3 separate regions of the Homo sapiens genome follow, and all the other regions are linked to region 2. The links come from fine-mapping of genetic effects on gene expression. A gene starts in region 2. Each other region holds a variant in brackets. All regions are shown on one strand. Distances are between the middles of the regions. Region 1 overlaps SLC6A4 (solute carrier family 6 member 4). Region 2 holds the start of CPD (carboxypeptidase D). Region 3 has its middle 21 kb from the start of TMIGD1.

The links. PIP is the estimated chance that this variant, and not a neighbour inherited with it, causes the effect.
Region 1: its variant is fine-mapped to the expression of CPD in whole blood (TOPMed, PIP above 0.99).
Region 3: its variant is fine-mapped to the expression of CPD in whole blood (INTERVAL, PIP above 0.99).

What each region holds. Positions count from the first base shown.
Region 1 is chr17:30,225,838-30,233,177 of GRCh38, forward strand. All of the region lies in intron 1 of SLC6A4 (solute carrier family 6 member 4), which reads right to left. Among named protein-coding and RNA genes, the nearest start is that of SLC6A4, 6.2 kb to the right of the region's middle. RefSeq lists a silencer at 60-260. The variant C/T (reference allele first, on the strand shown) is at 4,051.
Region 2 is chr17:30,374,670-30,382,009 of GRCh38, forward strand. CPD (carboxypeptidase D) reads left to right here and starts at 4,258. Exons shown (of 21, transcript NM_001304.5): 1 at 4,258-5,057. The coding sequence starts at 4,312. RefSeq lists enhancers at 1,984-2,273, 2,524-2,573, 3,844-4,013, 4,159-5,086 and silencers at 4,064-4,303, 4,604-4,733.
Region 3 is chr17:30,351,257-30,358,596 of GRCh38, forward strand. No RefSeq gene overlaps it. Among named protein-coding and RNA genes, the nearest start is that of TMIGD1, 21 kb to the left of the region's middle. The variant C/A (reference allele first, on the strand shown) is at 3,477.

The DNA of each region.
Region 1 (7,340 bases), 150 kb before region 2:
CTAATGCACTCCATTCCCCCAATCCCTGACTCCAAGTAAAAAAGGACTGTTTCTATTTAAACTTCTGATCGAATCTCCATTCCTCTTTCCACACACTTTGTCTCTATAGCCAGGAGCAACCCGTACCTGAACAAGCATGTAATTATCCCGATTGGTCATAAACACCCAGCCCTTTGGAAATGCCTGTGACGCTCCATCTACTTGATGCCTATCAGTGCCTTCTAAGCAGAAAGACACTACAGAAATGTTGAACTTTGACTTCATGTGTCAAGATCAAAGTGAGTTCATTTCTCAGGAAACTCAACTTTCTTTCTCAAAACAAACAAAAACAAATGAACTGTGGGTTTAACGTTGAGATAGGATTAGTTACAGGTCATAGAGCCAACTGGCAGTTCGTATCCTCTATTCAGAGGGAGGCTGAAGTTCCCAGGGCATCTCCCAAGAGTGATGGGAATTATGGAACGCTGGTGCCGCCCGAAGCAGTAAACATGGAATCTGGCCTTCTTCATGGAGAAGCACTCCCTCAGCAAAGATGTGCGTAGGCCCACATGTGCTCGGCTCCTCAGAAACAAGGCAGGCAAGCCGGGCCAGCTGGCTCACGCCTGTAATCCCAGCACTTTGGGAAGCCAAGGCGGGCGGATCACCTGAGGTCAGGAGTTTGAGACCAGCGTGGCCAGCATGGTGAAATCCTGTCTCTACTAAAAATACAAAAAGTAGCTGGGTGTGGTGGCGGGTGCCTGTAATCTCAGCTACTTGTGAGGCTGAGGCAGGAGAATTGCCTGAACCCAGGAAGCGGAGGTTGCAGTGAGCTGAGATTGAGCCACTACACTTCAGCCTGAGTGACAAGAGTGAAACTCTGTCTCAAATAAATAAATAAAAATAAAAATACAAAAAATGAGCCGGGCGTGGTGGTGCATGTCTGTAATCCCAGCTACTCAGAAGACTGATGCATGAGAATCGCCTGAACCTGGGAGGCAGAGGTTACAGTCAGCCAAACTGCGCTCCAGCCTGGGCGATAGAGTGAGACTCTGTCTCAAAAAAAAAAGAAAAAGAAAGAAAAAAGAAACAAGGCAGGCACAGTCCTGCCTGCATGGAGTCCACAGGCCAAGCCTAAAATCTGAAAAAGAAAACCAACTGCTAGGAAAAACACGATGCTTCTGGAGAGGCTGGTGCTGCCACACATCCCGTGGTGAACAGAGGCTGCCGCTGGCTCGCCGCGGCGTGTTTAGATAGCTCACATGTTTTGCACCACAGTTGCCCCCAGGCTTTAAGTCTTCCTTTGCTGCTATTGCACAGTTTCTCTCACAGGACCTTGGCTGTTGGCTGATCCTTCCTTGCAGGCTCTGCAGTGTAAAATGGGGGCTCACGTTTGCATCTGCTGAAGGCACTGCTGTGTTCCCGAAGTGTGCAGGGTCATGGGGGCACAGGTCGGAAGCCATAGGGACTCCTGCCTTGCCTTTCCAATGAATTGAAGAGATTTCATGATAGAAATGAAGAGAATAGAGAAAATCTGCTTGTTTTTTTTTTGGACAAAAAGGGTAGAAATGAACTCCACTATCACAGCCATCTCCTTATCCAAAGGATTCCTCATATGACAGAGTCAGTTTAGTGTTTTTTCTGTTCCTTTGTGTGTGTGTTTGTGTGTGTGTGTGTGTTGTTTTTTTAAGAGACAGAGTCTTGCACTGTCATCCAGGCTGGAGTGCAGTGGCATGATCATGGCTCTCTGCAGCCTCAACCTCCCGGGCTCAAGGAATCCTCCCACCTCAGGCTCCCGAGTAGCTGAGATTACAGGTGTGTGCCACCACACCCAGCTAATTTTTTGTATTTTTTTCAGAGATGGGGTTTCACCATGTTGCCCAGGTTGGTCTTGAACTCCTGGCCTATGAGCAATCCTCCCGCCTTGGCCTCCCAAAGTGCTGGGATTACAGGCATGATCCACTGCACCCAGCCTGGTTTAATTTTTTGGAGAGGAATTAAATAGGATAAAATCCTCAGGGCCATTTGGGCCAGTTATCATGAGAAAGAAAAAGAATTTCTGTCCAGAACTTTCCCTGCCTGGGAGAGGATAGCCCTGGGCTTCTCTCTACACAGAGTATAAAATCTAGAGGATATGCCCCTTGTGATGGGGTCAAGGTCCCCCTGAGAGGCTGGCCAAAAGGATACTGGATTATTTATTTTGACTTTACTAGAAAGAAATGAATTTAGCATAGCAGATGTGAACAGCCCTCCTCCAGTGAATATAAACAGCCAAGCCCAGACTAACTTCCTTCCAGAGTCATCTTTCATTAGTTCCTCTGTTCACAACCCATAGCTCTCCTTTCTGTTTCAGGTCTGCACTGGAATCCCTGGTCCACCACTTAATGGCTGTGTGACTTTGAGTAGGTCACTTAACCTCTCTTAGCTTCCATTTCCTCCTGTGTAAAAGCAGACTGTTAAAACCGCTACTTCCTAAAGGCTGTCGTGGGAATTAAAGTATGACACATGCTTATCTCAGTGTCTAGCACAGGGAAGCATCAATAAATGACAGTGAGTTGATGTCACTATCACCACCATACATCCGCAACCCATTGTGCCTTTCTACTTCATACCCTAGCAGGGAAACTGAGGCCCACAAGACTTGGGACTTAAGTGATCTGTGGCTCCCAGCACGGGCCTCACTGGGTCATGCTTGCTGCTCTCAATCAGTGCTTGGGGTCACCTGGGAAACAGACTCCTGGGCTGCTCTCCCAGAGATTCTAATTCAAGAGATCCACGTGGGCACTCAGGGATCTGCAGTTTTTAACAAATACCGCAGGTTATTCAGGGGCCAGTAGGCACCAACAGTGCCGTGTGCGTCCCCACCTGTAGCTTCCCTTCCTCTAATTATCCTGCACCCTCCAAGGCCTGGCATAAGCTTCTATCCACCTCCTCTCAGCACTCCAGCCCAAGATACACTCTTTCTACTCAATTCTCATTTGTCACTCGCCATTGATTACCAGGCATCATTAGTTATCCTTTTATATACATTTGCTTCGTGTGCCCCTGGAAGCAGGGGCTATGGCTACACGTCCCTGAGTCCAAATACTTGCAGACTGGAGCACGCCCTGTACAGCTCTCAGCATGGAGGGCTTGTTTTGGGTTTCCTGACTGGGCGAGGGTGCCAACAGATCTGAGCTCCATGTGAGGTGCTGCTCTTTCTCTCCTCCCTGGAGTTAAGTCAAATGGGATCAGGGTTCTATTCTAAGGGGCCCTGTCCCTCCCTGCCTCACCCATCGGGAAGATTGGCTGTGCATCTTGTGGGCAGAGGAGGAGGGCTGCCTTAACAGTCATTTTCATGGACTATGGACAGGAAGAGACTGACATGCCCAGGATTAAAGAGCCCGGGATGGGCTTTCAGACTTTGAAACAAGTACTGGCAGGCACACCCATCAGCGGTCTGGGCTCCAAATGTTCATCTGTGAGCTGGTGGTTTGGAACTTAGAATATATTTCCTAACCCACAGAAATAAATGTGATAAACTAAAACATCTGAAACGAAAGCTGTAGAACACAGCGTTGTTAAGTGCTACACGACGGCTTAGGGGTGGGGAGGGGGCTGACAATGAGACTGATTCGAAGTTCTTTCTTTATTTTAACCTTCTTTTTGGTTCTTAAGGAAAACTAAATTTAAGGAAAGAAGAACAAGGAGCAGGGAGATCCTTGTACAGATTCCACGGAGGTGTCTTTTAGGCACTTTTGAGGTCTTTAGTTTTGTTTGTTGTTCAATTTTAAAATACACAGTAGAGATGAGATCTCGCTATGTTGCCCAGGCTGGTCTTGAACTCCTGGACTCCAGCGATCCTCCTGCCTCAGCCTCCCAAAGTGCTGAGATTACAGCATGAGCCACTGCGCCTGGTCCAAGTTCTTTAGAAGTTGATGACATGGGCTGGGCGCAGTGTCACATGCCTGTAATCCCAGCACTTTGGGAGGCCAAGGTGGGCGGATCACCTGAGGTCAGAGTTCGAGACCAGCCTGATCAACATGGAGAAACCCTGTCTCTACTAAAAATACAAAAATTAGCCAGGCATGGTGG[C/T]GCATGCCTGTAATACCAGCCTTTTAGAGGCTGAGGCAGGAGAATAGCTTGAACCCAGGAGGCAGAGGTTGTGGTGAGCTGAGATCGGGCCATTGCACTCCAGCCTGGACAACAGGAGCGAAACTCCATCTCAAAAAAGAAGAAGAAGAAAAAGAAGAAAGAAGAAGAAGAAGAAGAAGAAGAAGAAGAAGAAGAAGAAGAAGAAGAAGAGGAGGAAGAGGAAGAGGAAGAGGAAGAGGAGGAGGAGGAGGAGGAGGAGGAGGAAGAGGAAGAGGAAGAAGAAGAAGTTGGTGACATGAATTGCTTGTGACACATAATTTCACAACTTACAACTTTTTGCAGAAAACAAAACTGCTTTTACTCTGTTACCATAGTATATTTAAATGTGGACGAGGCTGGGAAAGAGACTTGAGAAACTCAAAACAGATGATGTGTTAGATTAATCAGGATTAGGAGTGTCACTTCACCTTCCAAACACTCCTTTACTGTTGTGATAAATACAATTTATGCAATAAGTAAAAATCGAGATAGAACACATGGGAACATGTCCACACACAGCTTTTCTTTTCCTTTATACAGGTATGTTACTAAGATTACCTTTGTGTAAAACAGACATGATTGGGTCCACAAAGGGACCCAAAACAGAGAGAAGAGAGGAAAAAACAACCCCAGGGAGAGGGTGCTATGAAATAAGGGTGGATTCACCTGTGGCTGCTGAGCAAGGCGGAAGAGGGAAGTGGGGAAAAGGGGGTTTGAAGTGGAACTACAAAATAAAATGGGAGTGGAGAAGAGAAAAGAGAGGGGAAACTGGCCCATTTCTCTGGGTGGGGCATGGAGGGGAGAAGGAGAGGTGAGGTCAGGTGAGGTGAGGCTGCTGGAGGAGACGGGTGCATCCAGGTGGAGAGGGGGCGCGGAGGACACGTGCAACCACCTCTTCAGCCACAAGGTGTTTGGAGTTTGGCTGTTGCTGCTCAAAGGTGCCTATACTCTTAGGTCAACAATTTCTGAGATGTGCTTTAGTGTGAGTCACACAGTTGGAGACACTCATGAAAAATCAGTTCATCCTTACACATCATTGCACCAGTCTAGTTCTCAGATATGCACTGAGATGAGAGCAAGAAAAACTTTCTGACCCCTAGTTTACAGTCTCACAGAGTAACACTGTATGCTAAAAAGGACATCATTGAGACAGCGGGGGAAATGGGAATATGAGCTGTATGTGCGATAATAGTATTGTATCTATCTCCAGTTTCCCCAGCATGAAAATGGCGCTGTGGTTACGTACAAGAAGGTCCTTGTTTGTTGGAAATCTGTGTTGAAGTATTTAAGGAAGAAGTATCTGGAAGTCTGCAAACTCTCAAAGGTTCAACTATATATATTAGTTGAACCTATATATATAGTATATATATACCTGTATGTATACCTACAGATATATATATACACACTATATATATCTGTAGGTATACATACAGATACATATAGTTTATATATACATATAGTGTATACAGACACATATATACACTGTATGTATCTGTATGTACATATGTATATATATATCTGTATGTATCTGTATGTACATATGTGTATATATAGTGTGTATATATATCTGTATGTATACATACAGATACATAAATGGCATAATTATATTAATGATCTTATATATTACACATAATATATCAAATCATATATATACTGCATATGCAAAAATTAGATATATGCATAATTAGAGTGACTTTGTACACAAATTGGCAAAATGTTAACTGGTGAAAATGGACCATATCTCTGATTTTTCAGTTGAAAATTTTCAAAAGAAAAAATAATTCTAGCCCTCAGCCAGTGCTGGGAAACTTCCAGTCAGCCAAAGCTCCCTGCTGACCAGAACAGCTTACCTCCCCTCTCCCCTCCAGGCTCTTCCCTCCCTGTTCCTTCGGCCCAGCTCCCCAACTCTGAAACAAGAGAAAGGGCCAGCTAATTTGGTTCGCCTTTTAAAGAAGACATGCCCATCATTACGGAGGGAAGAGAAGAGAGCGAAAGTAGAAGAGACTCAAGTTCTAGGCCTGGCTTTGTCCTCAAGAGCCGTGGGTGAGCTAGAGCCAGCCATGCACAGAGCTACGGGGAGCAGAACCCCTCCCTGGTCCTTCCAGGTCTCCCACTCACTAATTCTTGGCCCCTTAGAGGAAAAAGTTCCCTTAGAGAAGACAAATCAGCTTATTTTATTCAACAGTTCAGTAACAAAGGAAATGAAATGCTCTTTTTTCCTGTATACACACAGAAAGGTCACACCAAAACCCAAGACGGCAAAGGCCCACGTACTTGCCCCCTCCTGCTAGCTGCCCACCCAGTCTGGGGCTCTGGGCTCTCCCAAAGCACACAATGGGTTCGCTGTGTCCCCAGCTTTGCTGAGAAGTGCTCGCCCAGATCACCACCTGGTCTCATCATAACCCCTCCTGTCACCTCTTCCCTCCCTACCTCAAAGAATGACCTGAAGAACTGGACATCAGCATCCCAGGAGACCCTCCCCTTGCTGTCTGTCACTCGTCAGTACCTGAAGACCTGGGACATTGCCTCTCTGTCTCCACATCACTGGGTTGCGTCTCTCCTTTTGCAGCCCAGGGGCTTCTGGGATTAATGGAGGTCCATCCAGTCCTGGGTGCTAAAGAGCCTGTGGCTTAAATCCCATTAACAAATCCCCTTGGTTCAGGGTTGGGATGGAAGCTGGGGAGCTGCTGCCAGGTTCCAGAGGGGCCAAAGGAAAGATGGAAATAATAATAAGGCAGTCAGACTGCCTCACATCCACTTTATCGCTACTCATTTTGTCACCTCATTAGACACAGGGCTGGGAAAACACTTGCTCCCATTTAAAAGCGCGTTGTTGACATTCAGTAAATGAGCATTCGTCTTCCCAGTCACCCAGAGCAAACAAAAGTCAGGCTGAAGGGAGCAGCCCCTGCAGAGACGTTTCTCACAGGGCAACATTTCTGAATGTGAACCAAAGTCAGCACCGTGAGCTCCACCTGGAAGTACGGGGCTGTGCAGGCCAATGGTGGAGCCCGTGCCCACCTGGAAGAGCAATTTGCCTTTCTGCTCAGGGAAGATCATTGATGCCAGGTTTCTGTGAAAGGCTAGTTTCATCTGTTTTCCCCTGGGTCCCTCCTAGAAAGATGGGAGTTTTCTTCCCTTGGAATGTCATTTTGCCTGGTTAAGCCCAGAAACAGATTCCCTGTAAGAGCAAGGGAGTCTGCCTCACTTGTCCCAAGTGTGGAGAAACAGGCGCTTTTATGAGATGTTTC
Region 2 (7,340 bases):
ACCTAATCTCTTTTCCCACACACTCCAAGCCCCTCCATTTAGCATCTTTTCTCCTGCCTTCTTTGTCTTGGATAATGGCAAAGCCACCTACCTGGTCACCCTCACTAGCTCATGAAGTCATCTTTTACTTCTTCTTCCCTTTTACCCATAAAGTTGCTAAATCTTGTCAATCCAACAACCTAAACATCTCTAATTTATCTTCTTTTTATCCTCACTGAACTTGCCAGAATTAGCTCTTGCCTGGATAGCAGCTATCCCTTAGCCTTGCCCAAATGGTTCCTGGAATTTTCTTGCTAAAACACAGGTGCGATCCACACCATTCCTCCTCACAAACAGCTCTGTAAGTTTTCCATTTGCTTTGGAATAAAGCAAAACCCCATTAGTGTGGTATTCAAAGCCTTCATCTACTTCTAGTCTTTGCAGGCATGGCTTCTGCTGCTCTTCCTAACACATCTTGTATTCCAGCCACCAGTCACGAAATCCCTCTCTGTGCATCTATCCTTGCTGGTCTCTCTGCCTGGAGTGCTCTTTTCTCCATTTTTACCATTTGAGAATTTCTATTATTAAAAACAATAGAAATAACGGTGATTTCTGAACGCTTGTTATATGCCAAGTATTATATTAAATGTTATGTATGTATTATTTCTTTTAATTTTCAGAGAAATGAAGTAACTTGCCCTGGTTACAATGGCTGAAAAGGGACTGATCCAGGATTTGAACTTGGTTCTGCTGTTGAAGAGCATGATCAAGCAGTATTGGTGACGTTTTCTCTGACTCTTCATTATTTTTATTTTTAATTTCTTTTATTTATTTATTTTGTATTTTTAGTAGAGACGGGGTTTCACCATGTTGACCGGGCTGGTCTTGAACTCCTGACCTCAGGTGACCTGCCCGCCTCGGCCTCCCAAAGTGCTGGGATTACAGGCTTGAGCCACCGAGGGAGGTGACTCTTCATTATAATGGCTTTTGTGTGTTCCAAAAACAGGTTTTTGTTTTTTGTTTTTTTAAGCTTACTATATAGAAACAGTTTTATTACAGAATTTAAGCACACAGACTCTGAAGTCACACTCCCCAGGTTTGAGTCTTGGATCTGTGGCTTGCCAGCTGTGTGACCTCATGTCTCCTCTCTTTATCTTTGAAATGGGAATGATAATAGCACCAGCCTCATAGGACTGTTGTGAAGATGAAATGAGTCAACCAATGTAAAGGGTTTTGCACAGTGCCTGTTATGTAACTCTTGTCCAGCAGACACATCCAGTCCTGTGTTGTGTCTATGTTCTGTGTCCCTTCCTAGATTCTGTCCTCTGGGAGGGGAGAGATCCCCTTCATTCATTTTCCAATCCTCCTGTACCTGGCACAACAGACCTTTCGCCAGATTGGGTGCTCCACAAACATTTGTCAAATTGAATTTGTAAATCTGCAGGTGTTTGTGCTGGACAATGAGACACTTACAAGTTCCCGGTCTATGCTATGCTTTAATTACCTACGAATCTTGTGAAGAAAATGGTTCTTGAATCAGGCTGGTCATCTAAAAGCTTTTGCCCTGTTTTTAAAAAATCCACGTCAATTCTTTGTCATTTCTTGGTGCTAGAAACATTTCAAATCTCTTTGAGCTAAATGAGGTGATGGCTATCCAGAATGTCCTGGTTTGATCATAATATATTGTATGCATGTATCAAAATATCAAATGTATCCCATAAATATGTACAATTATCATGTATCAAATACAAAAATTAAAAAAAAAAATCCAAGTCATTGCCACTCTGCTTCTGTGAACAGGAAGCCTTTTTACCTTCAAGCCTTTCCCAAGTCCCTTCCATTTGTAAGGCCACACCTTTTCCTTGGGGAAAGAGGAAAGAAACACCTGTCATAAGGTTCAAGACTTCTCAGACACAATTGGAGGTATTCAGCTGTAGGTAAACACAAACCTGTAGGTAAACACAAAAGTGACTGAGGTCCAGAGCTTTGGGTTTCACTTATAACCATAAGCAACTGTGTACCTGCTAAGGAAGAAGGCTGCAGACCTGAAAGAGGCCCACGGAAGGCCTGGGGATTTCTGAGAGGACACCGGCTCAAGTTACATTCCCATATTATTTCACCACCCTCATGCTTGTTTATTTACATTTCAGGCTGCCTCTCTAGGCGAGGCTGCAGGAGTGAAGGGGCTGGAAGAGGTTTCAAAGGAGAGTGAACGTGGTAGAAAAGGAAATATTTGATTAGAAGTTAACATGTCCTCTGGGGCTTCTTTGACTTGGATTACTGTAAAAGTGCATGGTGTAATAGTTGAGCACTCCCGGGAGGTGGTGGGCGGTCTCTCTGTACAGAGTTGTGGCTTTGTTTCTGATGAGTTGCAGCTGCTGTGCATAATGTAGACTAGATCAAATGGGGCATGGAGAAGAGCCATTCACAGGACCGGAGTGACGGTGCTCGCTCTGATGGCAGAATACTAAATTAATCATCTTCACCTAAACCTGTGCTTTCTCCTGGCCTGTACCTCAGTGAATACCTGCAAGTTGCTTAGGCTGTAACTTGAAGTCAGCCTACAATCCTCTTTGTCTCCAGATCCTGTCCACTTTCCTTTCCGAAGGTCTTTCAGATCCATTTCCTTCTTTCCACCTCCACTGGCACTGCCCTCATTCAGAGTCTCATCATGTCTTCCTGGATTGCAGCTTCCTTCCAGGTCTCTCAGCCTCAAGTCTTAGGCCTCCCATTCAATTTTCCGTGTTACTGTCAGAGGAATTTTTCTAAACTAGCTTAAAACCCGTCTGTGGTTCTCCATGGCCTTCCAGATCAAATGTGCTCCCTGAAGACTGGCCTGTGAGCCCCTTCACACCAGTAATCCTGACCCTGCATGCAATTCCCAGAACACAAGGCATTTGTTCTCAAATCCTGCGGCTTTCTTTGCTTGCTTCTCCTCCTGCCTGGGATCCTTCCCATCCTCCATGGTTTCTCTCCTCCTTTCCTCCTCCTCAAGTTCAGATATTTCCCTCACCTGTACCCCCTCTGTTGTAGCATTTATCACAAACTACACTGAATCTCTTGACTGGGCAGAAGAATGAATTGTTTCCCAGCATCTAGCTTTGACATAAAAGTTGCTCAATAAATACTTGACGAATGAATGAACTCTATTAAAGTAGGGTTCAGTCATAGTTCAGGGAAGGGGCCCTGAAATAGCTGGCTCTGAAAGAAGGTAATGCCGGTTATTGCGATTATGTTGTTAGATGGGTAGAATTTCGCATTCGATTAAGGGATAGTTTTGGGTTTCTTCAAGCTAAAGAAACTAAAGCCTATAAAAGGTGATTTAAAAGACCTCTTCTCTAGACTTGATGAAACGCTGTAATTGCCATCTTTGGCTGACACTGAGGAGTTCAGGAATGCCAAGCAAGTGTTTCCAGAAATGTCAAACCTGCTGTTTTAAAATATGTCATTCCAGGGCACAGTTAAATATACAACTTGCTCCGATGAGGTGGGAGAAGTGGGCCGGTGAGCTGTGAAATGAAATCTGCCTAATGAGGGTCGAGGCCAGCACACACAGGGACCTATTTGCAGTAAAACAACGTGGGGTGACGCCTAAGAAATAGACAACATTAACACAAAGGGAGCCTACTACGTAGCACATTTCCGCTAGGCATAAAAGAGACACCTTTCCAGAAAGCAACTCTAAAAATGAATGCACCGCCTAGTGAGGTGCGAGCCTTCCTCCCCACGAGGCGTCCCGTGCAACCGCACGCGGACAGCGGGGCTCCAGCGGAGGCGGGGTGGATGCGGAGACAAGGCGCCTAGGAGACTGGGCTAAGGCTTTGAGTGTCCGAACGAAGATTCTTTCGAACCTATTGATTTTTTCTAGTCTTATGATTCTTTCGAACCTTTTGATTCTTTCCATTCTCGGTTCTAAGCATTAAAGCGCAGCTGAGAAAGGCAGCAACAAAGATGGGAAGAGAACTAGCAGGAGTTCTCAGAGAAAAATGGGTGATAATTTAGGGGAGAAGCCATAAAGAAGAGACTAAGCGAGAAGCGGAGCACACGCAGAAGACGAAACAAGGAGGAGGAGAAGAGAAGAAGAACCTTGGCGAAGGAAGAGAGTGACCAAACTCGTCCCGGACGGGAGGAGGGCAGGCCCGCCCAGAGGGAATCGGCTGCTTTAAGGGAAGCCCCGCCCCCTGGTGGTGACGCTCCACCAGGCCCGTCCGCGATTGGCTGCGGCCAGAGGGCGGGATGGGGTTGCTAGGCGAGGAGGGGATCCGGCGGGCCCCCGCCGCCCGGAGCGCTGAGCCGCGGGAGCGGAGCCGGGGTTAGCGGCGCTGCTGGAAGATGGCGAGCGGCCGGGACGAGCGGCCGCCTTGGCGGCTAGGGCGGCTCCTGTTGCTCATGTGCCTGCTGCTGCTGGGGAGCTCGGCCCGGGCGGCTCACATCAAGAAGGCGGAGGCGACTACCACAACTACGAGCGCGGGCGCCGAGGCGGCCGAGGGCCAGTTCGACCGCTACTACCACGAAGAGGAGTTGGAGTCGGCGCTGAGGGAGGCGGCGGCCGCGGGCCTCCCCGGCCTGGCCCGCCTCTTTAGCATCGGCCGCTCGGTGGAAGGCCGGCCGCTGTGGGTGCTTCGCCTCACCGCCGGCCTGGGGTCGCTAATCCCTGAGGGCGACGCGGGGCCTGACGCTGCCGGGCCCGACGCTGCGGGGCCGCTGCTGCCCGGCCGGCCCCAGGTGAAGCTGGTGGGCAACATGCATGGCGACGAGACCGTGTCGCGCCAGGTGTTGATCTACTTGGCCCGCGAGCTGGCGGCCGGCTACCGCCGCGGGGACCCGCGCCTGGTCCGCCTGCTCAACACCACCGACGTGTACCTGCTGCCCAGCCTCAACCCCGATGGCTTCGAGCGTGCCCGCGAGGGCGACTGTGGCTTCGGCGACGGCGGCCCGTCCGGGGCCAGCGGCCGCGACAATAGTCGCGGCCGCGACCTCAACCGAAGCTTTCCCGACCAGTTTAGCACCGGCGAACCCCCCGCCCTGGACGAGGTGCCCGAGGTGCGCGCCCTCATCGAGTGGATCCGCAGGAACAAGTGAGTGTTGCCTGCCCCCTCCCCGTCCGTGTGAGCCTCCAAGGGCCGAGGCTGGTTCCGGCACCCAGTAGGCGCTCAGACAATGCTGGCATAAGGGGTGGCGGTGGTGAAGGTGAAGGGAGACACCCTGTAACGGGGACAGGGCCCAGGCCGCGTAGCCTCCCGTCCTGCTAATCATCAAAGAATTGCCTCCTAGAGGCTGTCATTTGTTCAAGGGATGGCTGGAGGGGACACTCCTTTCTGACATTTCTGGTCCCTATTCTTACAGGGGCATAGAATATGAGCGAGAAGAGATCTTAAGGATAACCTAGGTCAGCTCACACATTTTATAGATAAGCTGTCAATGTTGTTATCTTATATCAAAAGTGCCTAATGTTATAGGCGCTGTGCTAATTTTTTCTGTGACTGCAGTATCTCACTTTATTTTGGCCACAACCTGATGTCATAGACACCATCAGTTTTGCATACGGGGAAATTGAGGGTCAGATTGGTTAACTGATTTACATAGGAGTGTGGCTGGGACTTAGAATTAGGCAATCTGATTCCCGATAGTCCTCTTAGCCACGGAGGGACACTGGAGCCCAAAAATGGCAGATGATATTCCCAGGATCTTCCCCTTGCCTATTTGACAGAAGCTGATTTTTCTCCAATTTTTACCTCTGACTCAGCTTAAGAAGATATGGACTTAGCTGGAGAACTTGCACAGATCTGTGAGCCGCTTCATTTTAGACTCTGAAGGGTTTGTGATGTCATTTGTGCACCTTATTAGCCTGGGCAGAATGGCTAATGGTCACACTTCTAATACACACTTTAAGTGTTATTAAGCATTGCATGAGGTTTAAAAAATTACAAAGTAGAAGAAGGAGGACCTCAAGAAATTAGTATAAAACAAGAGAATGTTATAAATATTTATGAGGTATGTTGGTGTACCCAGTTAAACTTTACAGGAATTGTTCCCACTGGCAAGATGTGTGTGGGCTGCAATAACACGGACCATCTCTGTGGAAGAGGTAGAGCTTGAGCTATCTCCAGAGATGGGCAGGATTTTCAGCAAAAAGGAGAGGAATAAAATAAGAGGGAACTCACTCCAGATGGCATAGTGTCTGAAGTGAGCAGGCATCTCTTCCCCTTTTCTAGCATCAGCTTTTCCCCATTTTTGTATCTTCATAAGGCTTTTGAAGCAATAACTGATCATTCCATCTGGATTAAAAGAAGATTTCTGAGGGACTGCTAAGATAAAGAAGTTTCCCTGCGGGACTTGGAATCATTTCTTCTACAAGATTTCAGTCATATATAGAAGATCTAGAAAATTCTTGAGTGTTAGGACAGTTCCTGAGTCTTTTCGTCTTCTATCTTTTACTTTACTCCTCTTGATAAGCTCTCTTGTAGATATATAATTTCACATAGACTTTCTGGGAGGATTTTTTTTTCTTTTAAATACGATCGTGTCATCACCTCTGAACATCTGCGTAAGAAATATGACTTTGACATACACTTATTGACAGAGCTGTGATGGCCAGGGCTTTTTGGAGATGATACAACAAATGCACCGTTTGCATTGCTTAAATGTTTAAAATGCTCTGTCCTTGCACCTTTAAAATGCTGTGATCCTTGCAGGGATGTAAATTCTGTGCCTGGATTTTTCTTTTCAGTATTAGTTGTGCTGTGACCAAATATGAAAATAAGCTTTTTCTTGGTGCAAGTCGCCTTGAGGCTATACAGAGTCATTTTGGTCTGTGGCTGTGGACTACCCTAATCATATCTGTTCTTCAAATATGTAACTCTCATTAATCAAAAGGGAAAGTAGGTGATCATATATGGTAAAGAGTACATCCATCCTAACTCAGTCTTCAAGAATTCACTCAAAATGCGTACTCTGTGCTATTAACCAATAACAAAGGACACTGATATGTGAATAAAATTAAAAACACAAGCACACACACAATTTGATATTGATGCCTAAATATAGTGTCAACTTTATGGATGGGATATTTTTAAATACTCAAACATTAGTCTGTATGGGAAAACTACCTTTTTCAGTGTATTTTGTGAGGTAAACCATTTGAGTAATTTCTTGATATCCTATTCACCCAGCTATATTCGAATTAGATTTTTGTTGTTATTTCGAATATGTAAAATTTTAAGGCTTAATTTCCTCCAGCTTGGGAAAATGAAGTTTATTTTCTTTGTTTCACTTTATACTTCATCCAATGGATGTTGAGACAAATACTTAAGAAAATATATAAAAAAATTAACTTTATCATTCAAATGAAGATTTTATAG
Region 3 (7,340 bases), 23 kb before region 2:
CGATTCTCCTGCCTCAACCTCCTGAGTAGCTGGGACTACAGGTGTGCATCACCATGCCTGGCTAATTTTTGTATTTTTAGTAGACACGGGGTTTCACCATATTGGCCAAGCTGGTCTCAAACTCCTGACCTTGTGATCTGCCCGCCTCAGCCTCCCAAAGTGCAGGGATTACAGGCTAGAGCCACTGCTCCCGGCCTCTATCTGACCTCTTTAAGTTAGCATGATGATTTCAAAATTCATCCATATTGCAGTATGTGACTTCCTTCCTTTTTACGGCCTAGTATTGTTCAGTGTAGGGATATAACACATTTTTGTTAATTTGTGCATCCTGGATGTTTGTATTGCTTCCAGTTTTGGCTATTTTGAATAATGCTACTATGAACATTCATGTACAAGTTTTTTTGTGGACATGTGTTTTCATTTCTCTTGGCTATATATCTATGAGTGCAATTGCTGGGTCATATAGTAACTCTATGTTTAACATTTTGAAGAACACCTAACTTGTTTTCCATAGTGACTGTACCATTAACAATTCCACCAGCAATGTACAAGGGTTACAATTTGTCCACATTTTCATCAACACTTGTTATTGTCTCTTTTCTATTTTAGCCATCCTTGTAAGTATAAAGTGTCATCTCACTGTGAGGGTTTTTTTTTTTTTTTTTTTTTGGTACAGCTTTATTGAGATATAATTTACCTACATACTGAGATATAATTTACCCATTTAAAGTATACAATTAAATGGTTTTTACTACATTCACAGTTGTGCAACATCATTGCAATCAATTTTAGAACATTTTCATCATCCACAAGAGAAACGTCATACCCTTTAGCAATCTCGTTGAGGTTTTCATTTACATTTCCCTAATATGTAATAACATTGAACATCTTTTCATGTGCTGCTTGGCCACTTGTATACCTTCTTTGGAAAAATGTCCATTCAAATCTTTTGACCATTTTAAGTTTTTTTTTTAATTGTTGAGTTGTAAGACTCTTTATATATTTTAAATACAAATCCCTTAATAGATATATGATTTGCAAATGTTTTCTCTCATTTTGTGGGTTGTCTTTTCTTTTCACTTTCATGATAGTGTCCTTTGAAACAGGTCATGCTCTGTCACCCAGGCTGGAGTGTAGTGGTGTGATTATGACTCACTGCAGCCGTGACCTCCTGGGTTCAAATGACCCTCCCACCTCAGACAGCACCACCCAGCCCCCAACCCCCAGTAGCTGAGATCACAGACATGCACCACCATACCCAGCTAACTGTTAATTTGTTTTGGTTGAGATGGGGGTCCCCATATGTTGCTCAGGCTGTTCTGGAACTCTTGGGCTCAAGGAATCCTCTAGCCTGGCCCTCCCAAAGTGCTGGGATTACAGGCATGAACTACCTACCATGCCCAGCCTGATAGAGGCTTCACAGCACAATTTTTTTTTTTTTTTTTTTTTTTGAGACAGAGTCCTGCTCAGTCACTCAGGCTGAAGTGCAGTGGCACAATCTTGGCTCACTGCAACCTCCACCTCCCGGGCTCAAACCATTCTCCTGCCTCAGCCTCCCGAATAGCTGGGATTACAGGTGCCCACCACCATGCCCGGCTAATTTTTGTGTGTGTGTGTGTTTTTTTTTTTTTTTTTTTAGTAGAGACGTGGTTTCACCATGTTGGCCAGGCTGGTCTTGAACTCCTGACCTTAGGCAATCCGCCCATCTCAGCCTCCCAAAGTGCTGAGATTACAGGCGTGAGCCACCACGTCTGGCCTGTAGCACAATTTTTAATTGTAAAAAAGCTTAACAGTTATTTTTCCTTTTGTCATGTATACTTCTGGTGTCATATCTAAAATACCATTGCCTAATCCAAGGTTATATTTTCTTCTAAGAATTTTATAGTTTTAACTCTTATATTTAGGACCAGATTTATTTATTTATTTTATTTTATTTTATTTATTTATTTTTTGCGACGAAGTCTCACTCCTGTGGCCCAGGCTGGAGTGCAATGGTGTGATCTCAGCTCACTGCAACCTCTGCCTCCTGGGTTCAAGTGATTCTCCTGCCTCATCCTCCTGAGTAGCTGGGATTACAGGCTCCTGCCATCATGCCCAGCTAATTTTTGTATTTTTAGTAGAGACGGGGTTTCACTATGTTGGCCAGGCTGGTCGCGAACTCCTGGCTTCCGGTGATCCACCTGCCTGGGCCCACTAAAGTGCTGGGATTACAGGTGTGAGCCACCATGCTTGACCCAGAATTTATTTTAAGTTAATTTTTGCCTGTGGTGTGAGATAGGAGTCCATATCCATTTTTTTGCTTGTGGATATCCAGTTGACCCAGCACCATTTGTTAAAAAGGCTATTCTTTCCCCCATTGAATGGTCTTGGCACCCTTGCTGAAAATCAATTGACCAAAAATAGTAGGGTTTATTTCTGAATGTTCAATTCCATTCCATTGATCTATATGTCTATCCCTATGCTATTAGCACCCTCTTGATTACTGTAACTTTATACTAGGTTTTGAAATCAGGAAACATGAATCCTTCAACTTTGTTCTTCTTTTTCAAGGTTGTTTTTGGCTTTTCTGAGTCTCTTGCATTTCCATATGGATATTAGGATTAGTATATCAACTTCCACAAGAAAAGATGCTAGTATTTTGATAGGAATTGCATTAAATATATAGATTAGTTTGAAGTATTGGCATCTTACAATATCAAGTCTTCTGATCCATGAACATGGGATGTCTAGGTTTTCTTTAATTTCTTTCAATAGTGTTTTGTAGTTTTCAGTGTACAAGTCTTGCACTTCTTTGGTTAAACTGATTCCTAAGTAGTTTATTTATTCTTTTTGATGCCATTATAAATGAAATTGTTTTCTTAATTTCATCTTTGGATTGTTGTTTGCTAGTGTATATAAATAAAATTAATTTTTGCATGTTGCTTTTGTATCTGGCAACCTTACTGAACTTGTTTATTAGTTTTAATAGGTTTATAATGGATTCCTTAAGGTTTTCTATACGTAAAAGTAAATCATGTCATCTACAAATAGAGATAGTCTTATTTCTCTCTTTCCTATCTGGATGTCTTTTTTTTTTTTCTTATCTAATTGACCTGACTGGAATATCCAGCACAATGTTTAATAGAAAGTGAACATTCTGGCCAGGCACGGTGGCTCACACCTGTAACCCCAGCACTTTGGGAGGCTAAGGCAGGTGGATCACAAGGTCAGGAGATCGAGACCATCCTGGGCAACATGGTAAAACCCTGTCTCTACTAAAAATACAAAAATTAGCCGAGCATGGTGGCGTGCGCCTATAGTCCCAGCTACTCAGGAGGCTGAGGCAGGAGAATCGCTTGAACCTGGGAGGTGGTGGTTGCAGTGAGCTGAGATTGCACCACTGCACTCCAGCCTGGGTGACAGAGCAAGACTCCATCTCAAATAAACAAACAAACCAAAGGAAAAAAAAAAGGAAAGTGAACATTCTTGGTTTGTTC[C/A]TGATTTTAAGGGAGCTTTCAATCTTTCACTATTAAGCATTATATTAACTGTGGGTTATATGAATATTTTAATGAACTACTTTTGAGCTACTAGTCCTTTTTTTAAAAATTGGAAATATGATGCACTGTGATAGTAATATTGAAAATGAAAATTTAATCATGGTCCAGTCAGAGGTTTTAGTTGGAAGTAACAGAAACTAACTCTAGCTTATTTAAGCATGAAGGAAGTTTACTGATGACATATTGTAGAGGAGGAGAAAGAAACAGGTTCAGTGAAGGATTGGAACAAGAAGGTCCCAGTAGCAACTAAGACCACAGGCTAAACATTGCCATAAACCCATCCAGGAAGACCATTACTGATGAACCACTAAATGCCACAGCTTGGAATGGGGGCCTCAAAACACTGAATACTGCCCCATTGCAGAAACTCAAGTTGCCCCTAGAAACAGATGTTTCTGCCACCACTGCCACCACTAGGCATCATAACCAATTCCTGATTCTTTGTGTCTCTTGCTCTCAATTGGAGTTGGAGGAAGAAGACTGCAGATGTATTTTCACCCTTGTCTTTCTTACCCTTTGATCTTCTCGTGATGAGGAGGTATAGAGATCCATCATTAAGAGCCCACCTTTGTAATAAGCCTAGGGCAGTTCAAGTATGCAGCAGTGTAGTTGGAAGGAGGTCTTGTGCTGAAGTTGTGTTTATGAGTTACAACACTGCTTTTCCTTAAATTGCATATTTATTTAGGGTGGCTATACTAGTATGTTTTCATGCTGCTGATAAAGACATACTCGATACTGGGAAGAAAAAGAGATTTAATTGGACTTACAGTTCCACATAGCTGGGGAGGCTGCAGAATTATGATGGGAGGCAAAAGGCACTTCTTACATGGTGGCAGCAAGAGAAAATGAGAAGGAAGCAAAAGCAGAAACCCCTGATAAACCCATCAGATCTTGTGAGACTTATTCACTATTTCAAGAACATCACGGGAAAGACTGGCCCCCATGATTCAATTACCTCCCACTGGGCCCCTCCCCCAACACATGTGAATTCTGGGAGATACAATTCAAATTGAGATTTGGGTGGGGGGCACAGCCAAACCATATCAGTGGCTTTGGACAAACTAATGGAAATCCTATAGAGGCTGATGACTGTAGCACCTTTCCACACCAAACATAATTCAGATCCTAGCGGAACCACTTGATTTGATTATGTGAGCTTAGGAAAATTAGTTAGATTTTCTGAGCTTCAGTTTCTTTTTCTTTTTCTTTCTTTCTTTTTTCTTTTTCTTTTCTTTTTTTTTCTTTTTCTTTTTCTTTCTTTTTTTTTTTTAGATAGAGTCTTGCTGTGTCACCCAGATTGGAGTGCAGTGGCGTGATCTCGGCTCACTGCAACCTCTACCTCCCGGGCTGAAGTGATTCTCCTGCCTCAGCCTCCCGAGTAGCTGGGATTACAGGCACCTGCCACCAGGCCCAGCTAATTTTTGTATTTTTAGTAGAGACAAGGTTTCACCATGTTGGCCAGGCTGGTCTCGCACTCCTGACCTCAAGTGATCCACCTGCCTCTGCCTCCCAAAGTGCCGGGATTACAGGCATGAGCCCATGCCTGGCTTCAGTTTCTTTGTCTAGAAAATGGTGACACACTTTCACAGGGTCATTGTGAGAGTGAAAGGGACAATGAACATAAGGCAAATAGGACAGTGTTTGGGACATAATAAGCATTAATAATTAGTGGCTAGTGTTCATATTCTCTGTCAGTCTACTTCTTGGCTACCAGGTCCTTTTCCTTGGAATCAGTCCCAGTGTCTCTTTTTCACTCTAACTTTTGAACCACCTACAGCTCCCAGTCATCTTTCATATGTCAGCTCCCAACCAGTGCCAGTGTTTTTTACCTTGAGTATCTGATCCACCCCAAAACGGCACTGCATCATATTGAACTTGGCCATGCTTTTGGCCAAAAGCTAGAAATACTGTTGGCTGAGAGGCTTAGAAATGCCTCTCCAGCCCTACCATAATCAGCCGTGGCAAGCTGACATGAGGCAGGCCAGAGCAGCCAGGTGTCACAGGCTCTAAAGTTAGGCTGCCTAGAGTCAAACCCACTCATCTCCGCCACTTATCGTTAGTGACTTTGGTGAAGTTATGTAACCTCTGTGTCTCAGTTTCATCTTCTGTAAAATGGGGATATTAATAGTATTATTTTGTAGAGTTATGAGGATTCAATAAATTGATATACGTAAAGCATTCAGAACAACGGTAGGCAAGTAAGCTCTCTAGTCTTTGCTATTATTATTATTATTATTATTATTATTATTATTATTATTCAGTCTGGTACTCAAACCCAAGCACTGGAGAATGAGGGTACAAGGCAGGAAACCCATAACTGGGAATTAAGATGCTAAGATCAAACTGCACACAGCAGAAAGATTGACTGGCTCAGGTTCAACAGTGAGCTGCCAATGTTGGTCCCTCAAAGTTCAGAAGTGGGGCCAGTCTCCAAGCCTGAAGTGTAGCTGTTACAAAGGGCTCACCTGTGCCCCTGAGAAGGCAGCAGGGGGATGGGGGCAACCATGTTATTGAGAAAAAGAGAGCATGGGCTTTATCAATGGATAAATGGCCAATGGATAGATAACGATGGTTTGCTGGCAAAAGAGTAAAAGGATCAGAGCGATGCTTTGTAACAGTGGTCTCCAAAGTGAGGTTTGTGCTAATTCCTGGAATTCATTAGGAGCTGGCTGCCCTGAGCCGCAGAAAAAATATTAGTATTTATATTTATTTTTCTTTAAAAGAATTAAACTTTACTGATGCCCTATATATCAACTGATGCTGGAAGCCACATTTGTCTGAACATGAGTCAAGTGTCATAAATCATAAGAGAGATCTCCCAAGAGGAATTTGTGTGCTGTAGGGTGTCATTAGGCTATTTTTATAAATAAAATAAACAAAAAACACAAGACCTTTAAACTTTAGATAGTAGAATCTTGGGTGGCAGGTTATCTCACTTGGTTAGAGCCCAGTGTTAATAAATCACAGAGTCCTTATAATACTGTAAAGTGAGTTGAAGAGTGACCATCAAAATCAATTGTATCAAATAGGATTATGGGCCATTGAGGGGTAAAGGACTTAAAAGAATTGTCAATTTAAAAAGATGAACTGTGAACTGCACAATTTTTCTCTTACAAAAAGACTAGTGTTCAAAAATTTCTGACCTTTTCTGTGATGACAAATGAATTTAAAAACTGGGCTACCAGGAGAAATTACAATAATCAATCAACTAATTAATAATAAAACAATTACAATAATAAGCACATTTAATTAATATCTTTAAGAAAAAAAATGGTGTTTAACAGTGAATGAAAAGTCACTGTTTTGGGGGGCCAAGGCAGGAGGATCGTTTGAGTCCAGGAGTTTCAGACCAGCCCCGGCAACATAGTAAGACCTCATCTCTACAAAAAAATTAAAGATTAGCTGGGCCTGGTGGTATGTGCCTGTAGTCCCAGCTACTTAGGAAGCTGAGGCAGGAGGATCACTTGAGCCCAGGAGTTTGAGGTTACAGTTTGAGTGCAGCAGCCGAGCTATGATCACACACAGCTCCAGGTATGATTGGGCTACTGCACTCCAGCCTGGGTGACAGAGAGAGTTTGTCTCAAAAAGCAAAGAAAAAGAATAGAAAAGTAACTGCTCTTGCAAAGAAACTCTTTTTTTAATTAAGAAAGCATTTTGAAAATGGATGTCTGGAAGTCAAATTGTCTGTGTTTGCAGACGACATGATTGTATATTTAGAAAACCCTGTTGTCTCAGCTCAAAATCTCCTTAAGCTGATAAGCAACTTCAGCAAAAATCACAAGCATTCCTATACACCAATAAGAG